7 linked regions of the Homo sapiens genome follow. Changing the gene in region 7 together with the main gene of any one other region gives a genetic interaction. Each region holds a gene or a part of one and is shown on either strand. Other genes may lie near its edges. The genes, in order: TRAPPC11, TRAPPC13, HDAC8, ARL5A, MAN1B1, CHRAC1 and NPRL3.

Region 1 (4,077 bases), on a different chromosome or scaffold from region 7:
ATTATAGGCATGAGCCACTTGTGCCTTACCTGAATTCTCTGTAATATGCTGGTATAGATTATCTTTTAAAAGAACCTCATTTGGGAGGCCAAGGCTGGCAATCGCCTGAGGTCACGAGATCAAGACCATCCTGGCCAACATGGTGAAACCCTGTCCACTAAAATACAAAAAATTAGCTGGGTGTGGTGGTGCATGCCTGTAGTCCCAGCTACTAGGGAGGCTGAGGCAGGGGAATCACTTGAACCCGGGAGGTGGAGGTTGTAGTGAGCTGATATTGGGCCAGTGCACTCCAGCCTGGTGACAGAGTGATACTCCGTCTCAAAAAAAAAAAAAAAAAAGAACCTCATGTTGTTACATCCTTTTGCAAGTAAGATTATATTAAAAATATAATGACAGTCTTGTTCGGGATAAACATAGTTTTATATACTTATAAAGTCAGGGCATACGTTAGATTTATTATGGACTGATTCTTAGCTAAAGGACGCAGTGGAAACATCCTCCGAGAGGTTTCCATTCATTGTTAGTTTTTCCCTTACAGATTTTTCTTTAAAGAGTAAATTTTATATTGTGGGAAATGAGACAACATAGCTACTATTTAGATAATTACATAAATTAAAGGCTATTTTAATAATATCCTAGGTATTCAGAAATTCAATATTAGCAATTACAGAGAAATTAGGGGAAGTTTATTATATGTAAGTCAACTGTTTTTCTTTTATATTTTTCTTTCAATATATTTTTCTTTTATAGTTGAAATAGATCATGTAGATCTATTTTAATTTTATCACCTTCTTGCTTTCTTGGTCTACTAATTTCAAAGTTCTGTGTGCATTTTGAGACATTACTGAAAATGCCGATTTGTCTTAAAGTTGACTTCATTTTTAACATGAAAGATTTTTTCTTAAATGTCATATAGTTATTACATTTTAATAGATCTAATTCAGGAATTAAAGTTTTCCCTTTTTCTCTCTTCTGTTTGTTTGACAGTTTGCAGATACTCAAAGCCTTTTGCCTTTTTGTAATGATTATTTTATTTATTTTATTTTTTTTGAGACAGAGTCTCACTCTGTCACCCAGATTGGAGTGGAGTGCCGTGATCTTGGCTCACTGGAGCCTCCGCCTCCTGGGTTCAAGTGATTCTCCTGCCTCAGCCTCCAAGTAGTTGGGGTTACAGGTGTGTGCCACCATGTCCAGCTAATTTTTTGTTTTTTGTTTTTGAGACAGAGTCTCCCTCTGTCATCCAGGCTAGAGTGCAGTGGCGCCATCTTGGCTCACTGCAACCTCCACCTCCCGGGTTCACGCCATTCTCCTGCCTCAGCCTCCTGAGTAGCTGGGACTACAGGCGCCCACCACCACGCCCGGCTAATTTTTTGGATATTTAGTAGAGACAGGGTTTCACCGTGTTAGCCAGGATGGTCTCGATCTCCTGACCTCGTGATCTGCCCACCTAGGCCTCCCAAAGTGCTGGGATTACAGGCGTGAGTCACCACGACCAACCAATTTTTTGTATTTTTAGTAGAGACAAGGTTTCACTGTGTTGGCTAGGCTGGTCTTTAACTCCTGGCCTCCAGTGATCCACCTGCTTCGGCCTCCCAAAGTGTTGGGATTGTATGCGTGAGCCACCATGCCTGGCCTTGTAATGATTATTTTTTTGTAATGATTTTTAAATAGAGATTCATATATTGGAAATGAATATGAGTTGTTTTTTTTTTTTTTTTTTTGAGACAGAGTTTTGCTCTTGTTGCCCAGGCTGGAGAAATGAATATGAGTTTTTAAAAATTAATTATGAATGTATTAACATTTGTATTTCAGGTTTTTTGTGACATCGTAAACATGAGCCCCACACAGTGGGACTTCCCTGTGGAATTATGTTGCCGGCCTATGGCCTTTGTTACTCTAACGGGCCTGGATGTAGTTTATAATGCAGTCCATCGAGCTGTCTGGGACGCCTTCTGTGCAAATCGGAGAGCTGATCGAGTACCAATTTCTTTCAAGGTGCTCCCAGGTGACCATGAGTATCCCAAATGTAGACCCAAGGTAATGGCATTGTGATGGCATGTGTTCTTTCCTTCTCTCTCTCTATGTGTGTGTGTGTGTCTTTTTTGTTCTGTTGTGTGTGTGGAGTTTATCAAGACAGTGGTCACAGTGGTGCATAAAGAAAGCCTTAGGCATTTTCATGTAATACACTGCATGTATATTTAATAATAGTTCTTTTTTTTTAAACTCCAGAGGAATAATTACTTTATAAAGCTTTCTATCCTATGAGCCCAGGTTTTCCCTTTTTTGTTTTTAGGAAAAAACCCAACATAGTCCCCTCTAAAAGGAAGGTCTTGCATTCCCCACCATCATTACTAATGTCGTTTTTGAATCCCATGGTCTGTGCAATGTGGCTCAATTTCACAGATTTTTTGAGCACTTGCTTTGTGATAGGTACCTGGAACCATGCAACAAGCTAGTGATACGAATTTAAGTGAGACAGGTTCCCTATTCTTGAGGAGTTTTACATAAACTAACACAGTTTATTCATTGCGGAATGAAGAAAGGTATTAAGTTCAAAACTGACTTTTAAGGTGAACGACATAGTAAAGACGACTTTACCTTAGATAATAATTATTATCATGATGATAGTATCACTAATAGCTAACATAGTTGTAAAAAAACAGTAAAACAGTTTACTGTTTTAAGCAGTTTATGTGTAGTGATTTGTTATTTATCATAATCTTATGAGGTTGGTTTGAAAGTTAGGTGATAAAACCCTTTTAGTTCTGACCCCTATCCTTTTTTTTTCTTTTGCCCTAGAGCAGTGTCTCTGACATAGTAGTCTCTGGACCAAGTATGTCATCATAACCTGGGGTATTTATTAAAAATGTAGATTGCAGCCCTCCTCTTTGGTTTCTGGGAATATAGGACTTGGTCACCGGCTGATTATTTTTGTGTGTGTTTGAGAACCACACGACAACATTTCATATACTCAGCCCTGGAAACTGAGCTCTCTGAAATTGTGCAAGTAATAGCATCCCAGCCCTGGCCCTCACACGATTATTTTTCTTTTCTTTCTTTTTTTTTTTTTTTTTTTTTGAGACGGAGTCTCGCTCTGTCCCCGAGGCTGGAGTGCTGTGGCGCGATATCGGCTCACTGCAAGCTCCGCCTCCTGGGTTCGTGCCATTCTCCTGCTTCAGCCTCCCGAGTGGCTGGGACTACAGGCGCCCGCCACCACGTCCAGCTAATTTTCTGTATTTTTAGTAGAGACGGGGTTTCACCGTGTTAGCCAGGATGGTCTCGATCTCCTGACCTCGTGATCTGCCCACCTTGGCCTCCCAAAGTGCTGGGATTACAGGCGTGAGCCACCGTGCCAGGCCTACATGATTATTTTTCTTTAGTGTCATGTTTGTGTCAAGAAGGCAGGGAGCCCAGCACAAGCCCTCTTTTCTCTTAATGCTCGAATTCAAGCTGCTTTTCATTTCTCTATTCCCAGCTTTTGGCTGAGTCCCCATGTTATTTTGTGTCAGACTTCCTTATTGACCTCATCTTTCCTTGCTGGAGGTAGACATTGGATCACCATGAAGTGGAGTAGTCTGAGCCAGCACAGCTGATTTGGAAGGAATGTGAGGTTTCAACTGCATCCCTCAGGGCTAACACTCAAATCTACAGCATCCTCTTCCCACTCTGTGGCACTCAGTGCCCAGACTCAAGTGGCTGCTGTGAAGCTTCTGTTTAAGAATTGTTCTCTGCTTTGTACTTCATCTACAAGTGAGGTGAAATGCATCACAGCAATATGTCTTTGAAATAAACAAAGCCTATTGGATTTTAGATAATATTTTATTTGAGCAGTTTTACAAGAACAGAAGCTGGAATGGTGAAGAATATAAGTAGAATTTACCTGGAAATGGGCTACTTTTTTTTTTTTTTTTTTCTTTAGCAAAGTATTTGAGACCCTTGACATCATTAGACATGCATCATCGTTTTATGCATTCAGTTATGGGGCTGATAGAAACTCTTTGGCTTCAGTCATTCTTTAAATGGGAAGTATAGCTTCTCCAGGGTTGAGATTCCACCTTCAACACTTACTAGTTCTTA
Region 2 (4,077 bases), on a different chromosome or scaffold from region 7:
ATGCTCAAAGGGATTAAAACAGTAAAAGTTTTGTAGAAGCATGTATGTTTGTTTAACATATTTAAATGCCTACTTTGCACTAGGTGCTAGGATATACTAGGGAAGGAGACAGACATGGACCTTGCCCTCACACAGCTTACATGTCATTACTACTATTAAACACACCAGCTCCCTAAGAAAAATAAGACTGCACTTAACTAGGAATATAGACATGTTTACCTTGAAGCTCAGTGCCTGTCATGGTAGGAGCTTGATAATGCATGGTAAACATTCCCTTCAGAGGGATTCTTCATAGCCTGAGATGGCTGAGGTTGCTTAAAATGGAAGCCCACTAATTTTTTTTTCTTTCTAACTTTTATTTTAGGTTCAAGGGGTACATGTGCAGATTTGTGATATGGGTAAATTGTGTGCCACAGGGGTTTGGTGTACAAATAGTTTTGTCACCCATGTAATCAGGATAATACCCAATAGGTAGTTTTTTAGTCCTCACCCCCTGCCACCTTCTACCCTCAAATAGGCCTCAGTGTCTATTGTTCTGTTTTTTGTGTCCATGTATACTCATTGTTTATCTCTCACTTATGAGAATATGTGGTATTTGATTTTCTGTTCCTGCATAAATTGGCTTAGGATAATGGCCTCCAGTTGCATCTACGTTGCTGCAAAGGCCATAATCTGAAAATATGAAGAAAAAAGTTGCTTTTAATACCAAGTTGGGATCACTTTATTTTTAATGGAGGATCATTTTTTACCCACCATCTCATCCCCTGCTAAACCACAGGAATCATGAAAAACTAAGCTTTATAGGACTTTTCTTTATAATAGAAATTGGAACCTATAATAAGCAAATATGTTAGCTACATGTTTGGGTGAACTCCAGGACACTAAGAAAAAAAAAAAAGGAATGTTTCAGGATTCCCTTGAGACTGTATTTTCTCTTTATTCAGATTTGTTTTCTAATGAAATGAAAAAAATAATAGGGAAGAAATAGAAAACACCAACTGGTACTAAAAGTGAACTTACCAGCCTGGGCAACATGGTGAAACTCCGTCTCTACAAAAACTACAAAAATTAACCGGGCATGGTGGCATGCGACAGTAGTCGCAGCCTCTTGGTGGGCGGGGGTAGGGGGTGGGTCTGAGGCAGGAGGTTCACTTGAGCTCAGGAGGTCAAGGCTGCAGTCAGCCATGATCGTGCCACTGTAGTCCAACCTGGGTAACAAAATGAGACCCTGTCTAGTGATTTTAGCTGTTTAAATTGGGAGAAACTGCCTCCTGTGTATCACTTTCAGGGCACCTTTTTATCTGTTTTCAGGGCACCTTTTTCTCTGTTTTCGTAGTTAAAAATAAGAGTGAAGGTTGGAAACGCCTCCCCATATTCATCTGTAGCTGATTAATACTCTTTGGAATACATTCCTACTTTGAATTCCCATGGGGTATTTCTGGTAAGGCATGACATTCCAGGTTTATGGCTCCAGGCTTATAATTAATAATTATTATAGAGAATTATTTTTCAACAGAGTGAAATCACCAGGGTTCAAATCTAGATTCTACCACTTATCTACTAATATAATCCTTTGTATGCAAATTACCCTCTGCAGGTATTGTCAATGCCCTATCTGTATATTGGGGTTAATGTAATACCAACTTAGAGAGTACTCATGAGAATTAAATGTGTTCAGCTTGTAAAATATTTAGCATAATGCCTGGCGCTAGTAAATGCTCAGTAAATGCTAGCTATACAGAGTAACTTCAGAAATTTTAAGGGTAGCATTTGTTGACTATTTCAAAAGCCAGCTGCTTAATATAGCAGGTTTTTAATTGCCTTCAGTTTCTGAAACTTACACTTTCAAAATAATGTCAGTTATTTAGGGACTTTCATGAAGTGCTAATTATTTTATTCAGGGAAGATCTGAATAGCAGAACTTACACCAAATATGGATGCTACAAAACTGAACGTAGTACATAAGAGCCTAGACCTCATGGAGTTTGGAAAGGAGTGCTATAAACAAATAAATATACTGCATGATAAATACAAGGTACCATGAGTGAAACAGAATGACCTGTTACTTTTTTTCTGAAAAAGATGACATTTAAGCTGAAACCAGAATGAGAAAGCCACTAAATTTGATATGAATGCCATAGTTGGTTAATTAGTAGTTGGGTGGTACATTTTTACATATGCTAGAACATTACTTATATTCTGAATTGACCATGTAGGTCTATAGTCTTTATAGTATTTTGGCTTTGATTTGAAGGAATTTTTTTTTTTTTGAGGCGGGGTCTTGCTCTGTTGCCCAGGCTGGAGTGCAGTGGGCGATCTCAGCTCACTGCAAGCTCCGCCTCCCGGGTTCACGCCATTCTCCTGCCTCAGCCTCTGCGAGTAGCTGGGACTACAGGCGCCCGCCACCATGCTAGGCTAATTTTTTTTATTTTTAGTAGAGACGGAGTTTCACCGTGGTCTCGATCTCCTGACCTCGTGATCCGCCCGCCTCGGCCTCCCAAAGTGCTGGGATTACAGGCATGAGCCACTGTGCCCAGCCAGATTTGAAGGAATACTTTTAATAATGAACTAGCCCTCTGTGATTCATTTTCTGAAAAATTTTACAAGTTTTTATGATTTTTTAATTTTATGTTTTTGTTTTTATTTTGATGTGGTCAAACGACAGTCTTTAGAAGTAACTGAAAAAGATTTTTAAAAAAATTATAGAGTGTTTACTCATTAGACTATAATAAATATTCAATTTCTTTTTTTTTACTTTTCTGTGGCTTAATTTTTGTCTATTTATATTTAAAGTGAATTTTTTAGTTAAATTTTATTTTCCCAGATAGCTAACCATGTCTTTGCACCTTATAATGAATAATCCTTTTGCTAATTGATTTTTTTAACTTCTAATCCTTTAATTGATTTTTTTTTGTCAAGAGGTTGTTTTTTAAAATATCTCTCCCAGCGTTTTTTTTTTTTTTTTTTTTTTTTTTGAGACGGAGTCTTGCTCTGTCGCCCAGGCTGGAGTACAGTGCCGCAATCTCGGCTCACTGCAACCTCCGCCTCCCGGCTTCATGCCATTCTCCTGCCTCAGCCTGCCGAGTAACTGGGACTACAGGCACCCGCCACCACGCCCAGCTAATTTTTTGTATTTTTAGTAGAGACGGGGTTTCACCGTGTTAGCCAGGATAGTCTCAATCTCTTGACCTCGTGATCCGCCCGCCTTGGCCTCCCAAAGTGCTGGGATTACAGGCGTGAGCCACCATGCCTGGCCACTCCCAGCAATTTCTTTATATAAGTATATCCTATCTTTTTTTTGAAAAACTAATATATCGGTATGGTCTTATATTAATAAGTCAATTAGTTGATTATGGACTTAAATATGTTATAATATGTAGTAAATTCAGTTCTTCCTCTTTTTTCTCCGTTAATTTCCTTAGCTTATTTTCATTTATTTGTTTCTCTAAATAAACTTTAGACACATTCTGTCATGTTCCAAAAATAATATCTTACTTTTGATTGGAATTATATAAACGTATATGTTTTCTGACATTTTTGTAATTTCTACACAGAATTAATATTACTTGAAGAAACACTTGGCCGGGCATGGTGGCTCATGCCTGTAATCCCAGCACTTTGGGAGGCCAAGGTAGGCAGATCACTCGAGGTCAGGAGTTAGGGACCAGCCTGGCCAACATGGTGAAACCCCGTCTCTACTAAAAATACAAAAAAAAAAAAAATAACCAGGCATGGTGGTGCATTCCTGTAATCCCAACTACTCAGGAGGCTGAGGCAGGAGAATCTCTTGAACCTGGGAGATAGAGGTTGCAGTGAGCCGAGATCGCACCACTACACTCCAGCCTGGGTGACAGAGTAAGCCTGTCTCAAAAAAAAAACAAAAAACACTTACTGAGTTTCCAAAGTTAATATTTTGTTGATATTGTTTATGGTGAAATCACTTAGAATTTTTTTAAAGCCTTATGCTCCTAATACTCTTTAAGCTTTAAAAATTATATTTTCCAGTTTTTCTATAATGAATGCATATTGTATTTACATTTAATTTTTATAATTCATAGGTTGTAAATAAATGGTGCT
Region 3 (4,077 bases), on a different chromosome or scaffold from region 7:
TTTTAGGACTGGGAAATACGGTCCGAGATATTACAAAATTTTTATTTTAATGGGTAGATTTTTCACCTCTGGTGGTATAGATTTGTCTTCTTTAAGAAGAAGCAAGAATTCTTGGGTCTTGGCTATGTATTTCACTTTTGAGGCCAAACCACAGGATTTCTTCCAGCTACCTTGGTGATAGTAGTAGCCTGTATAGTCGTATTCATTCATCGTAAACTCATGGCTGTGTTCCCATTCAGCAGACATTTAAAACCACTGCTGCCTCCCTGTGGCCCAGGTCAGGGCTCCTTCAACTTGAATGTGTATATGAATCACCTTAAAATGTGTCATCTTGTTTAAAAATCATCATGTTAAAATACAAATTCTGACTCAGGTCTGAGGCAAGTCTGAAGTTCTGCATTTCTAACAAGCACCCAGGGAATGCTGATGCTCCTGGTCTATGGACCACCCTTTAAGTGGCAAGGGCTAGAGAACAGTAGTGGCAGCTGTGGGGTCAAGAAGAGGAAATGGGGAATAGGCAGCTAGAGGTTAGATGTGGTAAGGCCTCTTATTGGGTTAGCTCCCTTTATTCCCTCACTCGCTTCTATTTGTCATTTTTCGTGAGGAGTAGGTTGAGAGGTTCTGAGTGAAGTCCGGTTCCAACCATTTTGCCCCTTCTCGCCTCGCTCTCAGAGGCAGATAGGAGGGTCCAAGTCTAGAAACATTACATTTTGGGTTGCCCATTTTTTATCTGTTAATAGAATGATAGTTATCCACCAAGCATTTTTGTATGTGTTATCCTTTTATCTTCACATAAGTCCCATAAAGTTCCCCATTTTACAAATAAGAAAACTGAACTACAGAACAGTTGACTTATCTGAGGTTATAGAGCTAGTAAGTACAGAATTAGGACAGGAACCCAATTCTCTGACTCCAAATCTGACTCCAAATTCAAAATGCATGATAACATAGCTGCCTATTAAAATAAAGATATAGCTGAAAGGATTAGATAGCCCAATTCGCAACTGGTTCAAATGAAAATATCCCTGCCTACTAGTTTGTCCTGAAAGTTGTAACTCACAGGGTAAAGTCTGTCTGATACCTGATTATTTGTTTAACTTGAATATAATTACTTTTGTTTACTTACCTATAAACTCAAGGGAAAATCTATCTTCTTGCCCCTTATTAATAGAGTCACTACTGTAGATGTGAGGCAGTGAAGACCGCACAGTGCAGTGGAAGAACAGAATATGTTTATTACTCCAGCCTATTGGAACCAGAAGTTGAGACGTATTTTCTTCTCAGACTGCTGGCTTCTGTTTCTAGCTTCTGGCATACGCTGGGTCTGACTCACTGACCTCTCTTTGTTCTCTCTGTTATTATTAGGATAGTTAAGCCTAAAGTGGCCTCCATGGAGGAGATGGCCACCTTCCACACTGATGCTTATCTGCAGCATCTCCAGAAGGTCAGCCAAGAGGGCGATGATGATCATCCGGACTCCATAGAATATGGGCTAGGTAAAGTCATTACCAGGCAGTGATGGGAGATGGACAGACTAATTTTTTTTATAACTTGTATGATTTTTTTAATATTTTTCGTTAAGAAATCATGTGTTAACTGTCAATCTTAATCTTTTGGTTTAGCCACATATAACTCACTAAACAAGCAAACCATATGAGTTGAGCAAAACCACATGAAGGGTTAGATGAAAGAAAACCTTTCAGTTGCTTATGCCCTACTGGCAGTGCTCAGATCTGGTCTGGCTGTGTATATGCTGATTTAGCTGTCCTGTGACCTTATATTTTAACTGGAGTACAGATTTATGTTCTGGCTAAGTTTTTGTACCTCACCCCTCATTAAACAGCTGCATTTTTTAAAACTGTAAGTGACCTGCAGGATAGTCTAGAAAAACAGCATGGTTTAGCAGAGGAACATTGAACTGGGGGGTCAACAGAGCTGGGTCCCAAGCCTGGCTCTGTGTGACCACTGACAAGACACATCACCTCTCAGGCTTGGTTTCTCTATCTGTAGCCTGTGACTAGTTCATCAGGAGGGTTTATCCTTTCTAGCTCTAACCTTTTAAAATATTATATCCCCAACATTGGAGTTGTTTCTGTCTCAGTTGGAGCTGATATTAGCACAGTGGCTTTTTAGTAGGTTAGGTTGTTGTCACACCTCAACCTATTCCTCCTCTTTTTCCAGTTCACCTTTTAACCAGCTCTTCTGATTTTTGCCCTAAGGTTATGACTGCCCAGCCACTGAAGGGATATTTGACTATGCAGCAGCTATAGGAGGGGCTACGATCACAGCTGCCCAATGCCTGATTGACGGAATGTGCAAAGTAGCAATTAACTGGTCTGGAGGGTGGCATCATGCAAAGAAGTAAGAAAATGACCTTTCTGTTTTCTGACTCTTTCCTTGAGTCAGTTTCTCAGTTATGTAAACTCTTATGCTTATTGTATTGACATTTACAGAGAGACGTGTGTGTATGTGGCACTTTACAAGGCATTCTGAAGAAATCCAAGTGAAATAGAAAAAAGATTACCTAATATAGTGGAAAGCACACTGCTCAAAGTCAGGACACCTGGGCTCTACACCTAGTTTTTCTAACTTGGCTAACTGACTTGGACTGATTACCCTCCCTAGGCCTCAGTTTCTTCATCAATAAAATGAACAAAGGATACAACTAGACAGTCTCTAAATTCCTTTTCGGCTTTCTAGAAATTCCCCTGTCTTCGAGGGACTTACAGTCTAGAAACATTAACAAAATTAGAATAGAGAACAACATTAGTTATGGTACCAATGGAATATATGTATGAGCTGAAGAGACTTATCAGTAGAAAGAAATTAATCATGGAAGTCTTGGCAGAAGTGAATTTTAGAGCTAGTTCTTAAAAGAAGTGGCAAACAGATTTTTAAAAAGGTGGAAAATTGACGCTAATAGGTTTAAAACAAAAGGCTGAAGAATCAAGAAGAGGGCTCATGCTCCTCTAATGAAAGTAGCAACCCAGAGGTAGATGTCTCTCAAAGACAAAGGGCTTGTGAAAAGGCTCTTCCTAGGTGCTTCTTGGAGTTAGAGGAGAAGTCCTTTGGAGTGTTTGTTTGTTTATTTGTTTGTTTGTTTTTGAGACAGAGTCTCGCCCTGTCGTTCAGGCTAGAGTGCAGTTGCGCGATCTCAGCTTACTGCAACCTCCTCCTTCCCAGTTCAAGTGATTCTCCTGCCTCAGCCTCCTGAGTAGCTGGAATTACAGGCACCCGCCATCATGCCCAGCTAATTTTTGTATTTTTGTAGAGACAGGGTTTCACCACGTTGGCCAGGCTGGTCTTAAACTCCTGACCTCAGGTGATCTGCCTGCCTTGGCCTCCCAAAGTGCTGGGATTACAGGGGTGAGCCACCGCGCCTGGCCACCTTCTAGAGTTTTATGTTAACATGTCAAACTGCAGTAGTCTGTCTGAGAAGGATTGCTGGGCCCTCCTTCAGCATTTGGGACTTTGTTTGATATTTCTGTAGTACTTAATCCACATTGAAGAAGAAGGATTTTTTAAACTCTGAATTTATCGATCCTCTGTCTGAGAGAAATGAAGCCACTGTGGTAGTAACTGCCAATGCCTCACTCAGGAATCAATTGTTCATGCAATCAACCGTGACCTTAGGTGCTCTTAGGTCAAGAGAAAACAACACTTTGTTTTTCAGAATAAAACACAGCACAACTTCAGCATATGCAGGTTAAGATAATAACAGAATTTTTTCCATCAAATTGACAGATTTTGTGGCCAAGGAAGTCCTTGAAAAAGTTTACTGCTAGAATTTACTAGTTGGGCAACACAGCAAAGGAAACCAATGTTTTAGTAATGAGTCTTACATGGTTTTAAAAACAGAGACAAGCTGCCTTTTGTTAGCTTTTGCTTGCTTGCCTGCTTGCTTTTTTCTTGCTTTGTTTGTTTGTTTGTTTGTTTTTTGTTTTTTGTTTTTTAATAAAGACAATGTCTCCCTATGTTGCCCAGGCTGATCTTGAACTCCTGGGCTCAAGGGATCCTCCATCCTCAGCCTCCCAAGGTGCTGGCATTACAGGTATGTGCCACCACACCTGGCCTCTT
Region 4 (4,835 bases), on a different chromosome or scaffold from region 7:
CTCAGTTTTCCCTTTTCAGGGGAAATAACTACTTCAAAAGATTGTTAAAACATAAAATAAAATAAAATAAAATGATTTAAATGACAGCATCTAGGATAAAGTTTGTACTCTACTGAATCTCAGTATCAACTAAATGTGACCTCTGGTTTTTCTAGTTCGAGCGGTATACAAATAGCTTTCACTGTGCACTCAATCTGAGCTTTAACTGAAAAAGCTGTTCTCGAGGGGTTTCAGAAACAGGAGATACTGCATAGTTTAAGTTTCATCAGATGGCAAATTCTGTAATCTCCCGAAACATACTTTCCAAGAGTTTCTATGAAAAGAAAGTAAGATTGCATTCTGAATCCACTGAAGGTAAAACAAGAGCATCCAACACATATCTAACTTATATATGTCCTATACAGAAAAAAAAAAAAACAACCCTGCTGGGCACCATGGCTCAGGCCTGTAATCCCAGCACTTTGGGAGCCCAAGGCGGGTGGATCACGAAGTCAAGAGATGGTGACCATTCTGGCCAACGTGGTGAAACCCCATCTCTACAAAAAATACAAAAATTAGCTGGGTGTGGTGGCACGCACCTGTAGTCCAGCCACTCGGGAGGCTGAGGCAGGAGAATCGCTTGAACCCAGGAGGCACAGGTTGCAGTGGGCCAAGATCACACCACTGCACTCCAGCCTGGTGACAGAGCAAGACTCCATCTCAAAAAAACAAAAACAAAAACAAAACCCAACAAATATCTGGCATTAGATTAAATGGTGGATATTCGGAAAAGTGACCCTATTGATAAGACAGCCACACTGTTTAGCAGAAAATAAATAATTTATTCACACTTTCACAATATTCATATCTAATTTTCTAGAACTTAACTTCATTAATTTCTCTATTAATTTCCGCCAAACTGCCATAAATGTCCCGTCAAAAATTACCACAAAATACAGGTTATAAAAACACTACTATTAGCAATTTGTAGTGATACCAGAGCACACACCCTTATTATTTACTACTCCAAGGAGCTGTTGGCAAAGTTCTCATTTATTCTTAACTTACAGAAACAAATAATTTTATCATTGACTCAAAATAGAAAGTGGTGATAACTCTTTTTCTGGCAGCACTAGAGCTCAATTCACAGTCTTGCTAAACCTCACAGCAGATGAAACACTAGCTTTGCTAAAAATAATACAAAATGATGGATGTTAAAACTAGAATAGATCTTATCTACTATAAGTACCATCAGTCTTACAGCAATGTACGTTTTAATATTTGCAATGTAGAAATAAAGTTTACAAGATTTGGAAGCTCCACAGATCCCTGGTGTTCTAGGTGAGAAAACCTAGACCAGAAAACCTGAGAGTTCAAGTGACTGCTTCCCACTCTCCTGCTCCCAACACTAACAGCCAGTCCAGTCAGAGACAGTGCTGATTAGAACTGATTTTCTCTACTTTATGAAAAATCCTCTTATCAGAAAAATTGATACTGCCCTTTCTTTCGGTATCACGTGACCTACACATCTGTGTGTGTGTGTGTGTGCGTAAAAGATACATTAGGGATCACAAGTTCTAGTTCTGCTTGCTTCCCCTAAGCTTCTTAAAAGAGCAGCTAGATCATGAAGGAGGAGGTGGTAGTAGTAGGTGTACATAATAGATGCCACCATTCACGTAAGTCTTTATTGGAAAACTGGGACGTGACACCATCAGCTTACACAACAGAAAAACACAAACTAAGTTCCTGACAGCGGAATGATGAACCACCCAACTTGAGTTAAAAAGAAACAAAAGTACACCACTGTATCTTAATAAGTATCCAGTCTTTGGGTTAAAATTGTATTCTCTTTCCCCAGTTTTAGTCATTTTGTAACAAATTTTAACAAGCCTGATAGGTATTTCATGGCCATGTCTGAAGTTGGCTGAACTTAAGCATCCCTATATAACACACTTTACACTTAGTAACTTGCTAGTTACCTATGGTTAACAAATGTTTCATATGGTATGTTTTTAAAACTTTCAGTGAAACACTTTAACATTTTTAACCCAGCAAAACAAACAAAAACTGTGTCTAATAACCCACACGAGTAGAAAAATGACCTTAAGCTTAACCTTAAACACAGATATAATAAGTAAAACAAATGGAGAGAAGTCCATCTCTATTCAGGAGGCAGAAGAACCCCCCCTGCCCCCAACACACACAAAGACGGGTGGCAGTGGAGGGCAGGCTCATAAACCAGAGGTGTAATGGACAAGTCGAGCGATTCCTCCCGTTTTCCGCATTCTGCAACCCTCGGTCGCTCAGTGGTGCGGTTAGGGCAGCAATCTATAACCTTCATTCCAGAAGACCCCAGCACTTCTATGTGGTGTCCAAACACAACTGGTGAGCAAAGAAAGGGCTGAAAGACAGGCCAGGCCGTGCTACTCAGGGACGTCGGACCTAGGGCAAGAAACCTTTACCACTCTCATTCGAAATCGGAGCAATGGGTCTATTACGGAAAAGACTTCTTAGGAAGGTCTCCTAAGACAAAGGGCTGCGAGTCAGGAACCATCCCCAAGCTCGGGAGCCGGGACCGAACCGTCCCGGGCCCGTATCCGCGCAGCCTGCACCCCGCGCTGAGCTGGCGCCCGACCGAGCCGCCCACATTCCGAAGTATTCGGAGACCCCCACCTAGCCGGCCCGAGCTGACCCTCTCCCCAACCCGTACGCCCGCGGACCGAGCTCCTCACCCTGGTGATTGAACAGTCTCCATATTCTAGTGAAGAGAATTCCCATTCTCGGGCAGCGGACCCCCCCCCTCCAGACACCCGGGCCGCCTGGCTTCCCCCGGCTCAGGCTGAGGGGGAGGAGAGAGACGCGCTGGAGCCTCCGCCTCTGCTGCTGCTCCCGCGCTGGTCGCGGGCCCGCTTCCAGGGAACCGGAGGGAGGCCGAAGCCCAGGCCGCCCTGCCGCGCGCAAGGCCCCGCCGCTGCCGCCGCGGCACTCGCCTGGCTCGCGGACATCGCCGCCGCGTTGTCTGCGACGAGCCTCGCGGGCCACCGTCCTCCCCCAGCTCCTCTCGGGCGGCTGCGGTGGCGACGACCACGCGGGCGGGGGAAGTGAAGGGGCGGGCCTGGAGGGACGTGAGTGCGCAGGCGCGCGGCCAGAGGGGCGGAGCGTAGGAAAGGGCGCCCGCCCTGTCCTCGCTTATTTGCATAACCAAGACTGCGGAAGGCGCAGGACTTTACCCTGGGACTGAGGCTGTGAAGACCGCAAGTTGGGGCAGATGGCTTCCGACTGCTTGCTGTTGCGTCCCCGAGTATTTATATTTCCCTCGAATCTTCTCCACTGCGCCATAATGTAAACATATAATTGAGTACCCCATGTCCATCCCCAACCCTTCACATACACTACACTTAAAGTTCCACGTCATGACTCTTTAAGACATTGTGTCCCCTGTGGGTCTTTGAGGGAAAAGTCTGCTGCCCTCTGACACTCAGCTGAAGTCAGTGGCCTTACCTAGATAGTCACCTTAAAGCCATTTTTGCACTTCAGGGCTCTTTTCTCTCCAATCTCTTAACTCTCACGTCAGTATTGCCCAAAACAACGATTTTGATCAAGTCACTACCCTGTTTAAAAACCTTTAGTGGCCACCAAAGCTCCATCCCTTTCTGTTCTCGTTAACCTTAGTAAAAAGGAAAATAAAGAAAAATTGGGAGACTTGTAGGAGCCATTTGAACTGCTTTGCACTCCCATCCCCAACAGCTGAATGAAATTAAGCAAAATCAGCAATAAACCGCACCTTCCCAACTCACTTCTCCTAACTACCCAGTATTTTACCTCAAAATATAGAAAAGTAATTTCGTTGACTTCTTTTGGGGCTTTATGGTTAAAAAGCCAAAGTTTAGAGGAGCCATACATGAAGGGAAGGAAAATCATAGTAATCCATATTAATTTATGTATTATCATGTCTGGATTTACTTAATATTCTGTACACTGTTTAGAAGAACAATGTAGTTTGTATAACCAATTTGCATTAACTCTGTAATATTTCCATTCTCGCACACCGTAGGTAATGCTTTGGTAGCTCTAAGACTTTTTCAGACTCCCACACAGATGTCAACTTATGAAATGGATGTCATATACACATTATGTGATGGCGGAGCTTCATATTTTACAATCTACCCAAGGAAATGGTCTCCCAGGTTATTTTCCGAGTGAAGAAAGAAGAGAGAGAGAGAGACAGAGACAGAGAGTTTAAAGACCAATTTATCTATGATTACAGAGAAATGCAAAATGTCATTGGAGAGACTTCTGACTTCAGGCATGAGAGAGTAGGATGGTTTGAATATATCCTCCTACCATTAGCAAATAGAAAACTGCACAAAGTACAGGCAACGACATTTCAGATATTGAAAAACACATCACAGTACTGTGATTCTTTGCAAAAGAGAAAGGAACAGGTGGAGTCTTACCATTTCCTGGACTTTATCCCTAAAAGCAATTCCCAGTCAACTACGGAGGAAGTGGGAACCCAAATGAGAATCTGGAAACCTCTTAGAACTGAAGACGCATATCAGCATTCCCAGAGATCAAGGTGACTAGAATTTGTGAAGCAGAGTAACTGGAAGGAGGGAGCTACACAGAGAAAAGCTCTGGAAACCTGTTAAGGGGCCATTGAGTCTTTGGCTGCATATCAATTTGTGCTCGTGCAGTATGAACCCCCAAGAGGCTGGTCAGTCACAATTCCTGAGGAAAAATAAGTACCAGGAAACTGTAATGCAAATGATTCCCAGAGATTACAACGGGTCAGGAATCATTTGAGTTCCCTTCAGCCAGAGTGAAGAGAACTGAATATATAGGACAGGGGTGTC
Region 5 (4,077 bases), on a different chromosome or scaffold from region 7:
CTGCAGGAGTTGAGTGTGGACTCTTTGGGGGACGTCCAAGGGACATTCCCAGGCTGTGCTTCTCTTGCAGCTGGGGGTGGTGGGATGAGTGACTGTGGGGCCCCGCTGGTCCCAGATCTCAGCAGCATCCTTCATAGACCAGCACATCCACTTTGAATTGGGAGTATGTGTCTTCGGTTATTTAAGCGATAATTTAAACATTTGCCTAATTTTTTGAATAGGTTGAAGACCACCAGTAAACGACGTGTGTAATTTTTTTGGGTCGTAGCCTTTGGTTGTGACCCATTGGTGGCCATAGCAACTGCACTGCTGACTCCGTTTTATTAACAAATGTTGACGACTTCAAGATTTACCCCCTTGAGATAGGAGGTGATATTGAAGCCCTGCAGGGGAACGATAACGCCCCAGACATGGGTTTGGTTTTTTGTTTTTGTTTTTTTGTTTTTGAGATGGAGTCTTTCACTGTCTCCTGGGCTGGAGTGCAATGGCGCAATCTCGGCTCATTGCAACCTTGGCCTCCTGGTTTCAAACGTGGGTTTTTTGGAGACAGAGTCTAGTGGTGTGGCCCAGGCTGGAGTGCAGTGGCACGATCTCAGTTCACTGCAGCCTTCGCCTCCCGGGTTCAAGCTATTCTCATGCCTCACCCTCCCCAGTAGTTGGGACCACAGGCATGCGCCACCATACTCAGCTAATTTTTGTGTTTTTAGTAGAGATGGGGTTTTCCCATGTTGTCCAGGCTGGTCTCTAACTCCTGGGCTCAAGCAATCCACTTGCCTCAGCCTCCCAAAGTGCTGGGATTACAGGCATGAGCCACCACGCCCAGCCAAATGTATTTTGAAGATGGATAGATAATAGGAAAACGTTGGAGCCATCCATTTGTCTCTGCATCCTTTACTGTTTTATGTCATAGAATTTGAGGAAGCCAGGAAGTGGGTGTCGAAGAAGTTACACTTTGAAAAGGACGTGGACGTCAACCTGTTTGAGAGCACGATCCGCATCCTGGGGGGGCTCCTGAGTGCCTACCACCTGTCTGGGGACAGCCTCTTCCTGAGGAAAGCTGTAAGTGTCTTGGGGTGTCCTGCAGGGAGATGGTGGACTCGCATTCAAGCAGTTACCCCTTTAGTGGACTTGTGGGGACGTGACTGTCTTCCTGTTTCCTCTTCAAATGCACTGGAGTCTGTTTCTGAGCTCATATTCGTGAGCTGATGAAGCCACTTTGATCACCACTGGCCTTGTAGAGACATTCACTCAGTGCAGAGTGATGCCCGTTTCCTTGCTGCTGTGTTGACCCCAGAGAGCCTTCAGTGTCTCCACTGAACTGCATGAAAGGGTGTAGACGAGGCCTCTGGGTGACCTGAACGTTGGTTCTCTACTCTGCTCATATACCAGGAGGATTTTGGAAATCGGCTAATGCCTGCCTTCAGAACACCATCCAAGATTCCTTACTCGGATGTGAACATCGGTACTGGAGTTGCCCACCCGCCACGGTGGACCTCCGACAGCACTGTGGCCGAGGTGACCAGCATTCAGCTGGAGTTCCGGGAGCTCTCCCGTCTCACAGGGGATAAGAAGTTTCAGGTAAGGGGGCAGGCTTTCTGGCTGGATGCGCCTCCCCTGGAGCTACCTTTTGCTCATCACAGCAGGTACTGTGTGTGTGTGTGTATGTGCATGTGTGTTTTCAGGTTTTTTACTGTGATAAAACACACAAAACGCACCACCTTAACCATTTCCAGGCGTGGTCGGTGGTGTTACATTCACGCTGTTGCAGGCGTGCAGGTCGGTGGTGTTACACACATTCACACTGTTGCAGGCGTGCAGGTCGGTGGTGTTACACACATTTGGGCTGTTGCAGGCGTACAGGTCAGTGGTGTTACACACATGCTGTTGCAGGAGTACAGGTCGGTGGTGTTACACACATTCATGCTGTTGCAGGCGTGCAGGTTGGTGCTGTTACACACATGCTGTTGCAGGAGTACAGGTCGGTGGTGTTACATGCTGTTGCAGGCGTGCAGGTCGGTGGTGTTACATTCACGCTGTTGCAGGCGTGCAGGTCGGTGCTGTTACACACATTCCTGCTGTTGCAGGAGTACAGGTCGGTGGTGTTACACGTGCTGTTGCAGGTGTGCAGGTCGGTGGTGGTACACACATTCATGCTGTTGCAGGAGTATAGGTCGGTGGTGTTACACACATTCACTGTTGCAGGCGTGCAGGTCGGTGGTGTTACACATTCACGCTGTTGCAGGCGTGCAGGTCGGTGGTGTTACATTCACGCTGTTGCAGACGTGCAGGTCAGTGCTGTTACACACGCTGTTGCAGGCGTGCAGGTTGGTGGTGTTACATTCACACTGTTGCAGGCGTGCAGGTCGGTGGTGTTACACACATTCATTCTGTTGCAGGCGTGCAGGTCAGTGTTACACACATTCACGCTGTTGCAGGCGTGCAGGTCGGTGGTGTTACACACATTCACGCTGTTGCAGATGTGCAGGTCGGTGCTGTTACATTCACGCTGTTGCAAGCGTGCAGGTCGGTGGTGTTACATTCACGCTGTTGCTGGCGTGCAGGTCGGTGGTGTTACACACATTCACACTGTTGCAGACATGCAGGTCGGTGCTGTTACACACATTCATGCTGTTGCAGGCGTGCAGGTCGGTGGTGTTACATTCACACTTGCAGGCGTGCAGGTCGGTGGTGTTACACACATTCATGCTGTTGCAGGCGTGCAGGTCGGTGGTGTTACACACATTCACACTGTTGCAGGCGTGCAGGTCGGTGGTGTTACATTCATGCTGTTGCAGGCGTGCAGGTCAGTGGTGTTACACACATTCACGCTGTTGCAGGCATGCAGGTCGGTGGTGTTACACACATTCACGCTTTTGCAGGCGTGCAGGTCGGTGGTCTTACATTCATACTGTTGCAGGCGTGCAGGTCGGTGGTGTTACATTCACACTGTTGCAGGCGTGCAGGTTGGTGTTACACACATTCACACTTGCAGGCGTGCAGGTCGGTGGTGTTACACACATGCTGTTGCAGGCGTGCAGGTCGGTGGTGTTACATTCACACTGTTGCAGGCGTGCAGGTCGGTGGTACACACATTCACACTGTTGCAGGCGTGCAGGTCGGTGGTGTTACACACATTCATGGTGTTGCAGGCGTGCAGGTCGGTGTTACACACATGCTGTTGCAGGCGTGCAGGTCGGTGGTACATTCATGCTGTTGCAGGCGTGCAGGTCGGTGGTGTTACACATTTTCACGCTGTTGCAGACGTGCAGGTCAGTGGTGTTACATTCATGCTGTTGCAGGCGTGCAGGTCGGTGGTGTTACATTCACGCTGGTGCAGGCATGCAGGTCGGTGGTGTTACACACAACGCTGTTGCAGGCGTGCAGGTCAGTGGTACACACATTCACGCTATTGCAGGCGTGCAGGCCGGTGGTGTTACATTCACGCTGTTGCAGGCGTGCAGGTTGGTGTTACACACATTCACACTTGCAGGCGTGCGGGTCGGTGGTGTTACACACATTCATGCTGTTGCAGGCGTGCAGGTCGGTGTTACACACATTCACACTTGCAGGCGTGCAGGTCGGTGGTGTTACACACATTCACACTGTTGCAGGCGTGCAGGTCCGTGGTGTTACACACATGCTGTTGCAGGCGTGCAGGTCGGTGGTGTTACATTCACACTGTTGCAGGTGTGCAGGTTGGTGTTACACACATTCACACTGTTGCAGGCTTGCAGGTCGGTGGTGTTACACACATTCACACTTGCAGGCGTGCAGGTCAGTGGTGTTACACACATTCATGCTGTTGCAGGCATGCAGGTCGGTAGTGTTACACATTCATGCTGTTGCAGGCGTGCAGGTCGGTGGTGTTGCACATTCATGCTGTTGCAGGCATGCAGGTCGGTGGTGTTACATTCACGCTGTTGCAGGAGTACAGGTCAGTGGTGTTACACACATTCATGCTGTTGTGCAGCTATCACTTCCATCTCCAGAGCCCTTTTCATCTTAAAACTGAAGCTCTCCCATCACACAGTGACCCTTCATGTCCCTCCCCAGTCCCTGAAAAACACTGTTCAGGTT
Region 6 (3,910 bases), on a different chromosome or scaffold from region 7:
TTTTTCTTTTCCCCAGTGATTTCTTTTTTTTTTTTTTTTTTTTTTTTTGAGACGGAGTCTTGCTTGATCACCCAGGCCAGAGTGCTGCAATCTCCAACCTCCACCTCCCAGGTTCAGGCGATTCGCCTGCCTCAGCCTCCCGCTGGCTGGGATTACAGGCACCCGCCACCATGCCCAGCTAATTTTTGTATTTTTAATAGAGATGGGGTTTCACTATGTTGGCCAGTCTGGTCTCAAACTCCTGACCTCAAGTGAGCCGCCTGCCTCAGCCTCCCAAAGTGTTAGTATTACCAGCGTGAGCCACCACGCCTGGCCTCCCCAGTGATTTCTTGTAATTTAATTTGAGAAACCAAGAGAATCTGAAGTCTTAATATACTTTTAAGCCTAATTAAGGAATCAACAATGTAATTTTAAAAATTAATTTCTGTGGTACATTTTCAAAGCACACCTTTCATTTGCATTTTTCATTTTGTTCTAGGAGCTCTTTGTTCAATGCCTAGCCACCTATTCCTACAGACACGGCAGTGGAAAGGAAAAGAAAGTACTGACTTACAGTGATTTAGCAAACACTGCACAGCAATCAGAAACTTTTCAGTTTCTTGCAGGTACTTAGTCTTTGAAACATTCTGGTTAAAAAATGATTAGTAATCAATAGCTCTTTCCCCACCCCTTGCCTCCCTTCTGCTCTCACGGAAAATTAGACTTTTTGCTACTTTTTCCAAGCCGCAAAGTACTATGAGTTGTCACAGGAAGATACTTTTAGTCTTCTCTGTTTGAATGTGTTTGTCATGTGGTCCACCTAGAACAATAGTGAAGCCAACAACATTCACAAGATGTTGGTTGGCCGCGTATGCTGGGCAGTCCTTTACTCTCTACAGGGACCCTGCCTGCCACTGAAGGGAAAACTCAGGGTGGGTCTACATGGCCGTAGTTAGAGCTTAAGTCTACCCTGGGGCTAGCCTAGGCTATCTCAGGTAGTCGGGCAGGGTTGCTCATAAAAGCAGCTCATAGAGACACCATGGTTTGTACTCATTGGACTGGAAAGAGGCCTATAGCGTTCGTTAGGAGACAATGCTAGTTTCTTTGATATTTTACCCAGAAATGCAGCCTGAATTTCATCTTGTTTTGGAACCTCTTATAGAGGTCAAAGCAGGAACTAGTACATTTTGAAATGTGCATTGCTGTGTTCATAGTCTACCATAACCAATTGCTGATGTACGCTTTATGTTTTTAAGATATATTACCAAAGAAGATTTTAGCTAGTAAATACCTGAAAATGCTTAAAGAGGAAAAGAGGGAAGAAGATGAGGAGAATGACAATGATAATGAAAGTGACCATGATGAAGCTGACTCCTAAACCAAAAGTGCTTTAAAAACCAGCCTGGCGAGGACAGCCCTGGACCCACTCCACTGTCTCTAAGTAAACACAGCACTGCCCGCTTTTAGCGTCTTCACTTCTTCACAGAGTTCCAGTGTGTGGTATTCTTTCGAGGTATTCTTTCCAGGCCGAGATTGAGCACCTCATGTACCTACGCCACAGACAGCCAGAGGGAAAGCGACCCAGACAGCAGCCCCTCCTCGACAGGCCCACCCTGCAGCTCAGGCACCAAGAAAACAGCCGATACTGGCAGCCATTGCAGCTCCAAACTGCAGAGGCAAGGCCAATTTTAACTTTTCAATTTACAGTCGATTTTGAAGAGCTTCTACATATCGGTTATGTAAATTCATATATGTATATTTTGGAATCAGTTCTTATAAACAGCTCGATTCAGTTTTAGCTAAATTTATAGTTTAGGTAGTATGTTACATTTGAATTTTTGTCTTAAGAAAAGTTGACTGTTCAGATATTTTTCTACTGTAAAGAAATATACTTTTCTATTAAAGATCTGTACATATTTTTACAGTAAAATGCTTTATGGAACTAGTTTTAGAGCCCTCTATGGCTTTAAGGCCTTGCTTACTGCCTGCAAATTTTGAGAAATTTAAAAATAAGCATTCTAACACTTTTATTCCCACAGAAAAATTCCAAGTCAAATTATCAAATCAAATACAAAAATAAGTCTTACCTCTTGTATAAGCATGTTGTACTAAAAAAAAATTTTGAAACATTTTGTATATTGGAGATCTCTCTCATCTTACTGTTCTTTGCTTTAAATTCCTGGCACTTCTTTTTACTGTCTATAAGAGAAAACCTATCATAAGCCCAATTTTTTTTTTCCACTTAGGGTAAATGTTTGGCTCCTCTCATTTCATTATCTTTTTTTTTTTTTTTTTAAAGACAGATTCTCACTCAGTTGCCCAGGCTGGATTGCGGTGGCGCTGTCTCAGCTCACTGCAACCTCCGCCTCCCAGGTTCAAGTGATTCTCCTGCCTCATCCTCCTGAGTAGCTGGGATTACAGGCGTGTGCCACCATGCCCAACCTATTTTTGTATTTTTTAGTAGAGACGGGGTTCACCATGTTGGCCAGGCTTGTCTCAAACTCCTAACCTCAACTGATCCACCTGCCTCAGCCTCCCAAAGTGCCGCCGGGATTACAGGCGTGAGCCACCATGCCTGGCCTTCATTATCTCTTTTTTAAAAATGAAAAAGTTTATAATTTACATTCAGTAAAATCACCCTTTTTAGTGTCTAGTCTGTGAATTTTGACAAATGCATGGTTTTGTAACCAATCGATAGGACAGTTCTGCCACCCAGGACATTCCCCTCTGTTCCTCTGTTCCTCTCTTCTCCTGCCCCCTAGCAACCACTGGTGTTTTCTGTCCCTCTTGTTCATTGACATTTATTTTAAAATAAAATATTTTAAAATCTACTTTTTGGTGTACAGTTCTGAGTTTTGGCAAATGCAGTCAAGTCACTACCACCACCACAATTAACAGCTATATCACCCTCCAGTAAATTCCCTGTGGTCAGCTCCTTCCCCACCTTTTACCGTGGCAACCGTCAAGCTATTCTCTGTCCCTATACCAGGTGTCATCAAATTTTTTTCTGGAAAGGGCCATGCAGTAAATAGTTCAAGCTTTGTGGGCTTTTATAGTCTCTGTTGCTGCTGCTGAACTCAGCTGTTGTAGCACGAAAGCAGCCAGGTAATTACTAGATGAAGGAATGCAGGTGGCTGTGTTTCAATAGAGCTTTATTTCTGCAAACTGAAACTTGAGTTTTGTGTAATTTTCATGTGTCATGAAATACTGTTTTCTCCAACCATTTAATAATGTAAATACTTGCTAGCTTATGTGCCATTAAAAAATGACTTGATTTGGCTTACAGACCAGTTTGGTGGCCTGTCTTTTCCAGAATGTCATATAAATGGAATCATTCAGTATGTAGCATTTGAGTCTGCAGTTGTTCTGTTTAGCAGAATGCATTTGAGATTCATCCGTGTTGTCACAGGTATCAGCAGTCCATTCCTTTATATTGCTGAGTAGGATTCCATTGTATGGATGTATCTGTTTATCCATTTTCCAGGTATATGGATAATTACCCATTTAGATTGTTTCTAGTTTTGATGATTGTAATTTTTTTTTTTTTTTTTTTTGACAGGGTCTCACTCTGTCACCCAGGCTGGAGTGCAGTGGCATGATCATGGCTTACTGCAACTTCCGCCTCCTGGGTTCAAGCGATTCTTGGGTCTCAGCCTCCTGAGTAGCTGGGATTACGGGCACGGCGTCACCACACTTGGCTCATTTTTTTGTACTTTTAGTAGAGATGGGGTTTCACCATGTTGGCCAGGCTGGTCTCGAACTCCCGACATCAAATGATCCGCCCACCTCGGCCTCCCAGTGATGGGATTATAGGCATAAGCCACCACACCTGGCCTTGATGACTATAATTAATAAAGCCCTATAAGTATTTGTGTACAGGGTTTTTGTTTGTGTTTTTTGAGATGGAGTCTCGCAAACTCTGCTGCCCAGG
Region 7 (4,077 bases):
TCTGTGGGAGTCGGGGCACATGGGGCAGACCTGGGGCCTTTGGGTATGTAGGGGTGGCATGCTGAGTGACTCCACACCCATCATCGGGCAAGGCCATGCTGGAGTTTTAGGGGGTATAAGAGGGCTGTGCCCCTGCCAGGACATCCAGCTAAGCCCCCTGCCCAGCTGGGCCAGCACTGTGTTCCCAGCACCCCAGACATTCCCATGCTTGTGGCCTGAGACCACCATTCTTCAGTGGGAGTCAAGACAGCATAGGATGGGAAAACAGTGCCACCAAACAGCACAGGGAGCAGTGACAAAAAGGCCATTGTGGCCGGGTGCGGTGGCTCATGCCTGTAATCCCAGCACTTTGGAAGGCCAAGGTGGGTGGATCACGAGGTCAGATCGAGACCATCCTGGCCAACATGGTGAAACCCTGTCTCTACTAAAAATACAAAAATTAGCTGGGCGTGGTGGCATGTGCCTGTAATCCCAGCTACTCAGGAGGCTGAGGCAGGAGAATCGCTTGAACCTGGGAGGCAAGAGGTTGCAGTGAGCTGAGATTGTGCCACTGCACTCCAGCCTGGGCGACAGAGCAAGACTGTCTCCAAAAAAAAAAAAAAAAAAACCATTGCTCACAGAAAGTGCTGTGTGCTGGCTGTGCCCCACATCCTAGTGAGAGGTTGCGAAGGTGCTATTCCACGTTAGGGAGGAAGTCTCGGGCCATAGCCACCAGGTGTGTTCTGCATGAGGCTGGGGCCAGCTTCTCCAGGCTGGTAGGCCATGGCCACCCAGGCTGAGAGCTGCTGACAGCTCCCGGTGGGCCAGCCTCAGGCATGGTCCTTGCAGCTTCCCTTTTGCCTGCAGGTTTTCCAGCTTGCAGCTCATCTGGTGTACTGGGGCAAGGCCATCATCATCTACCCGCTGTGTGAGAACAACGTCTACATGCTGTCTCCCAATGCCAGCGTATGTCTGTGAGTGCTGCTGGCTGCCAGAGCCTGGAGCCCCGAGTGGGAAGGGGTGAGGCTGGCAGGGCCCTCCAGATGCTGTTCTCTGTGTTGGCCAGGCACCAAAGGCTGTGGAAGCCCCAAGGCCAGGCTCTCACTTCAGCCTAACTCCTGGCCACTAGCATACCCAGGTCCCAATTCTGGTCTGGCTCTGTGCTCTGTGGCTCTCCTGTGTCCCCCATATGCCTGGCCCCCTCCTCCAGGCTGGCTCTTCTAATCCACCTTGAGGGATCAGAGGTGAGATGCAGGATGAACTGTGCCCATGGCTCCTGCTGCTGCTCAAGGGGAAGTGCCCAGGCTCTGTCCACCTGGAGGCCTGCCTGGCCTCATACCGTTCTGCCCTCATCGCACTGTCCTGACCCACCTGCCACACTTTGCTTCTCTGCTGCCCACTGAGGCCAGTGTTGAGAACACGGTGGGGGGGTCTGCTGCACTCACTGGCATGCTCACCTGCCTGCAGGTACTCCCCGCTGGCCGAGCAGTTCTCCCACCAGTTCCCATCTCATGACCTGCCGTCCGTTCTTGCCAAGTTCTCCTTGCCGGTCTCCTTGTCAGAATTTAGGAATCCCCTGGCCCCCGCTGTGCAGGAGGTGAGTCACAGAAGCTCAAGGAGCCCAGAGTGGCAGGTGTGTAGTGGATAGGCACTACCTGCCTGGCTGTTGGTTCTGATCTGAGAGCCCTCAGCACTGCCACCTGCTTCTCCTTGGTTTTGGGGGCTTGCCGTGCAAGTGCTACGTGCCCAGCAGGACCCAAAAGTCAGCTGCCGGGCCACCTGCAGATGCTTGGCCAGTGACCCAACACTTGAGCAGTTGTTCCCTCCCCATAGAGCCCACCCTGGCTGTGGCAGGCAGTTTTTAGTGTTAGAACCGAGTTAAGCAGGAGAGTGCTTACCTTTTCTGGGCCTACAGACCTGCCTTGTACCCCTTTGGGACTGGGGACTGCCTACAGATGAGGGTGCAAAGGCAGTTTTGTTCTCACTGGGCCAGGCCTGACCCTCTGAGAGTTCTGCTTCTGTCTTCACTCCCTGCCATGGTTCAGGTGGCCACAGGGTCTGTGGGTATGAGTTCTGGGGTCACTGGTCCCCAGAATCTCCTCATTCAAGAGAGCCTAGAGAGGACCCTAGTGGGCCTGGATCAGGGCAACGGGCAGGCAGGTTGGGAGCTAGGAGTGGCTGGGGGATAGGAGGCCTCCTGCAGGTCTGTGGGATGAACTGGTGCACCTGCATCTGTGGCAGGGCCAGTGGCTTCCCCTGTGGGCTGCAGGTGTCATAGCCTTGTGCTGAGGTGGCTTTGCCATCCTCCCCTCCACTGAGTTCTGGGCAGAGACTCAGAGCAGGGCCAGATAGGATACGGTGTTGGAGACAGACGAGCTGGGTGTTCTCAAGTCTTTGTCTCCAGAAGTATCTGAGTAAGTGCCAGATCTATTAGGCAAAACCAGTCCTTAAAGTTAAACCCTTTCCGTTCTCAAATTACGAATGAGAACGATTCTGGCTTTTCAGCTCCGTTAGACGCTAAACCTGACAGAGCTCTCAGTGCGGTCTTTCACAGAGCCCTTGGTTTCTGGGAGCTGAGCCAGGTTGTACCAGCTGAATAAAAGGCACTCTCTGCACCCCTGCTCTTGGGGCAGTGCTTAGGGAGGAGCTGCTGGTGCTCCCTTCTCAGAGGCCTCCTGTGGTCTAGATAACGGAGTGGCTTTTCCAGGCCATGACTGAGTGGTTGCTCCAGGCCTTGTCAAGGGGCCTAGGTCAGCCAGGTTCTGCCTGGGCTCCAGTGCTGGGAAGCCCCTCTGTTTTATTTTTGGTTTATTGATTTTATTTAATTTTGATTGCACGTCAGGCTGGAGTGCAATGGCATGATCTCGGCTCACTGCAACCTTTGCCTCCCGGGTTCAAGCAATCTCCTGCCTCACCCTCCCGAGTAGCTGGGTTTACAGGTGCCCGCCACCACGCCTGGCTAATTTTTTGTATTTTTAGTAGAGACGGGGTTTCACCGTGTTGACCAGGGTGGTCTCTAACTCCTGACCTCAGGTGATCCACCCACCTCATCCTCTCAAAGTGCTGGGATTACAGGCATGAGCCACTACGCCCAGCTTTTTTTTTATTGTTTTGATATAGAAACTTGCTTTGTTGTCCAGGCTGAAGTACAGTGGCGTGATCTTGGCTCACTGCAACCTCCGCCTCCCAGGTTCAAGTGATTCTCCTGCCTCAGCCTCCCAAGTAGCTGGGATTACAGGTGTGTGCCACCACACCCGGCTAATTTTTGTATCTTTAGTAGAGATGAGGTTTCACTGTGTTGGCAAGGCTGGTCTCGAACTCCTGAGCTCAAGTGATCCACCCGCGTCTGTTTTATTTCTTAAATTCATGTGAAGTCTGGATATCTTGCAGTCCTTTTGACCAAGTCTTCTTACTTGCCTGGGATATATCCCCCATTCCCATCCCCAGTTCCCCAGCCCCCTCCCAGGAGGTGACCCTGGCCAGCAGCTCCTTGTTGACCCTCCCAGAGATGAGTAGACAGATGTGTATCTGAGGACACTGATGTGTCTCACACTCCTTACTGTTCAACGCCTGAGTCTGGGCAGTACTTTCTCATGGGGACTGGACTCTACCTGGCACAAGGCTCCTCACTGCTCCTCACTGCCAGCCCCACCTGCTAACCCAGAGACATTGGAGGGCCTGGCCAGGACGTGCCTTCTCACGGTGGGGGTGGGGGTGGGGTGCTCCACCCCCAAGCCCAGGGTCACTGGCCTCAGCTTTCTTGTGGATCCACTCTTGTGCTCAGGGTGGACTTTCAGGTAGATCCAAGGAGAGGACTTTCTGCTCTCAGGGTACCTGCCCACAGCCTCTTTTTAAACAGTGTCTGGGCTTGTGTGGAGGTGGACTTGCTGGCTGGGTCCAACTCCAGGGCCAGTGGGCCAAAGAAGAGAGGAGGCAGAGGGGCAGCTGCAGCAGCACAGGGTGGGGGGTTTGCTCAGCGAAGCAGTCACAGGGGCCTCCACGTCTCAGGTCCTGCTCCTCAGCCAGATGCTGGGTGGCCCCGGTGTGTGGTGGGAGCCTGTGCAGGTGTGATCCAGATGTTCCCCTGGCCCCTCTCCC

What was found.
Region 1: changes in NPRL3 (region 7) and TRAPPC11 together harm fitness less than expected from each alone (positive genetic interaction), as found in Homo sapiens cells (one large-scale study listed by BioGRID).
Region 2: changes in NPRL3 (region 7) and TRAPPC13 together harm fitness more than expected from each alone (negative genetic interaction), as found in Homo sapiens cells (one large-scale study listed by BioGRID).
Region 3: changes in NPRL3 (region 7) and HDAC8 together harm fitness more than expected from each alone (negative genetic interaction), as found in Homo sapiens cells (one large-scale study listed by BioGRID).
Region 4: changes in NPRL3 (region 7) and ARL5A together harm fitness more than expected from each alone (negative genetic interaction), as found in Homo sapiens cells (one large-scale study listed by BioGRID).
Region 5: changes in NPRL3 (region 7) and MAN1B1 together harm fitness more than expected from each alone (negative genetic interaction), as found in Homo sapiens cells (one large-scale study listed by BioGRID).
Region 6: changes in NPRL3 (region 7) and CHRAC1 together harm fitness more than expected from each alone (negative genetic interaction), as found in Homo sapiens cells (one large-scale study listed by BioGRID).

Annotation. Positions count from the first base shown.
Region 1 is NC_000004.12:183,662,035-183,666,111, forward strand, and holds part of TRAPPC11 (trafficking protein particle complex subunit 11), read left to right. Parts: intron 1-1,812; 5' UTR 1,813-1,833; coding exon 1,834-2,037; intron 2,038-4,077. UniProt on the Homo sapiens protein: Involved in endoplasmic reticulum to Golgi apparatus trafficking at a very early stage.
Region 2 is NC_000005.10:65,631,029-65,635,105, forward strand, and holds part of TRAPPC13 (trafficking protein particle complex subunit 13), read left to right. Parts: intron 1-4,077.
Region 3 is NC_000023.11:72,566,173-72,570,249, reverse strand, and holds part of HDAC8 (histone deacetylase 8), read left to right. Parts: intron 1-1,365; coding exon 1,366-1,496; intron 1,497-2,219; coding exon 2,220-2,361; coding exon of another isoform or gene 2,362-2,365; exon of another isoform or gene 2,366-2,453; coding exon of another isoform or gene 2,454-2,493; exon of another isoform or gene 2,494-2,668; intron 2,669-4,077. UniProt on the Homo sapiens protein: Histone deacetylase that catalyzes the deacetylation of lysine residues on the N-terminal part of the core histones (H2A, H2B, H3 and H4).
Region 4 is NC_000002.12:151,825,420-151,830,254, forward strand, and holds the start of ARL5A (ADP-ribosylation factor-like protein 5A), read right to left. Parts: upstream 3,003-4,835; 5' UTR 2,758-3,002; coding exon 2,712-2,757; intron 1-2,711. UniProt on the Homo sapiens protein: Lacks ADP-ribosylation enhancing activity.
Region 5 is NC_000009.12:137,100,095-137,104,171, forward strand, and holds part of MAN1B1 (endoplasmic reticulum mannosyl-oligosaccharide 1,2-alpha-mannosidase), read left to right. Parts: intron 1-910; coding exon 911-1,059; intron 1,060-1,389; coding exon 1,390-1,578; intron 1,579-1,584; exon of another isoform or gene 1,585-1,662; coding exon of another isoform or gene 1,663-4,077. Other genes in the region: uncharacterized protein LOC124902313, read left to right, coding at 1,663-2,645, 2,682-4,077. UniProt on the Homo sapiens protein: Involved in glycoprotein quality control targeting of misfolded glycoproteins for degradation.
Region 6 is NC_000008.11:140,513,891-140,517,800, forward strand, and holds the end of CHRAC1 (chromatin accessibility complex protein 1), read left to right. Parts: intron 1-478; coding exon 479-605; intron 606-1,235; coding exon 1,236-1,357; 3' UTR 1,358-3,264; downstream 3,265-3,910. UniProt on the Homo sapiens protein: Forms a complex with DNA polymerase epsilon subunit POLE3 and binds naked DNA, which is then incorporated into chromatin, aided by the nucleosome remodeling activity of ISWI/SNF2H and ACF1.
Region 7 is NC_000016.10:90,095-94,171, reverse strand, and holds part of NPRL3 (GATOR1 complex protein NPRL3), read left to right. Parts: intron 1-846; coding exon 847-953; intron 954-1,446; coding exon 1,447-1,576; intron 1,577-4,077. UniProt on the Homo sapiens protein: As a component of the GATOR1 complex functions as an inhibitor of the amino acid-sensing branch of the mTORC1 pathway.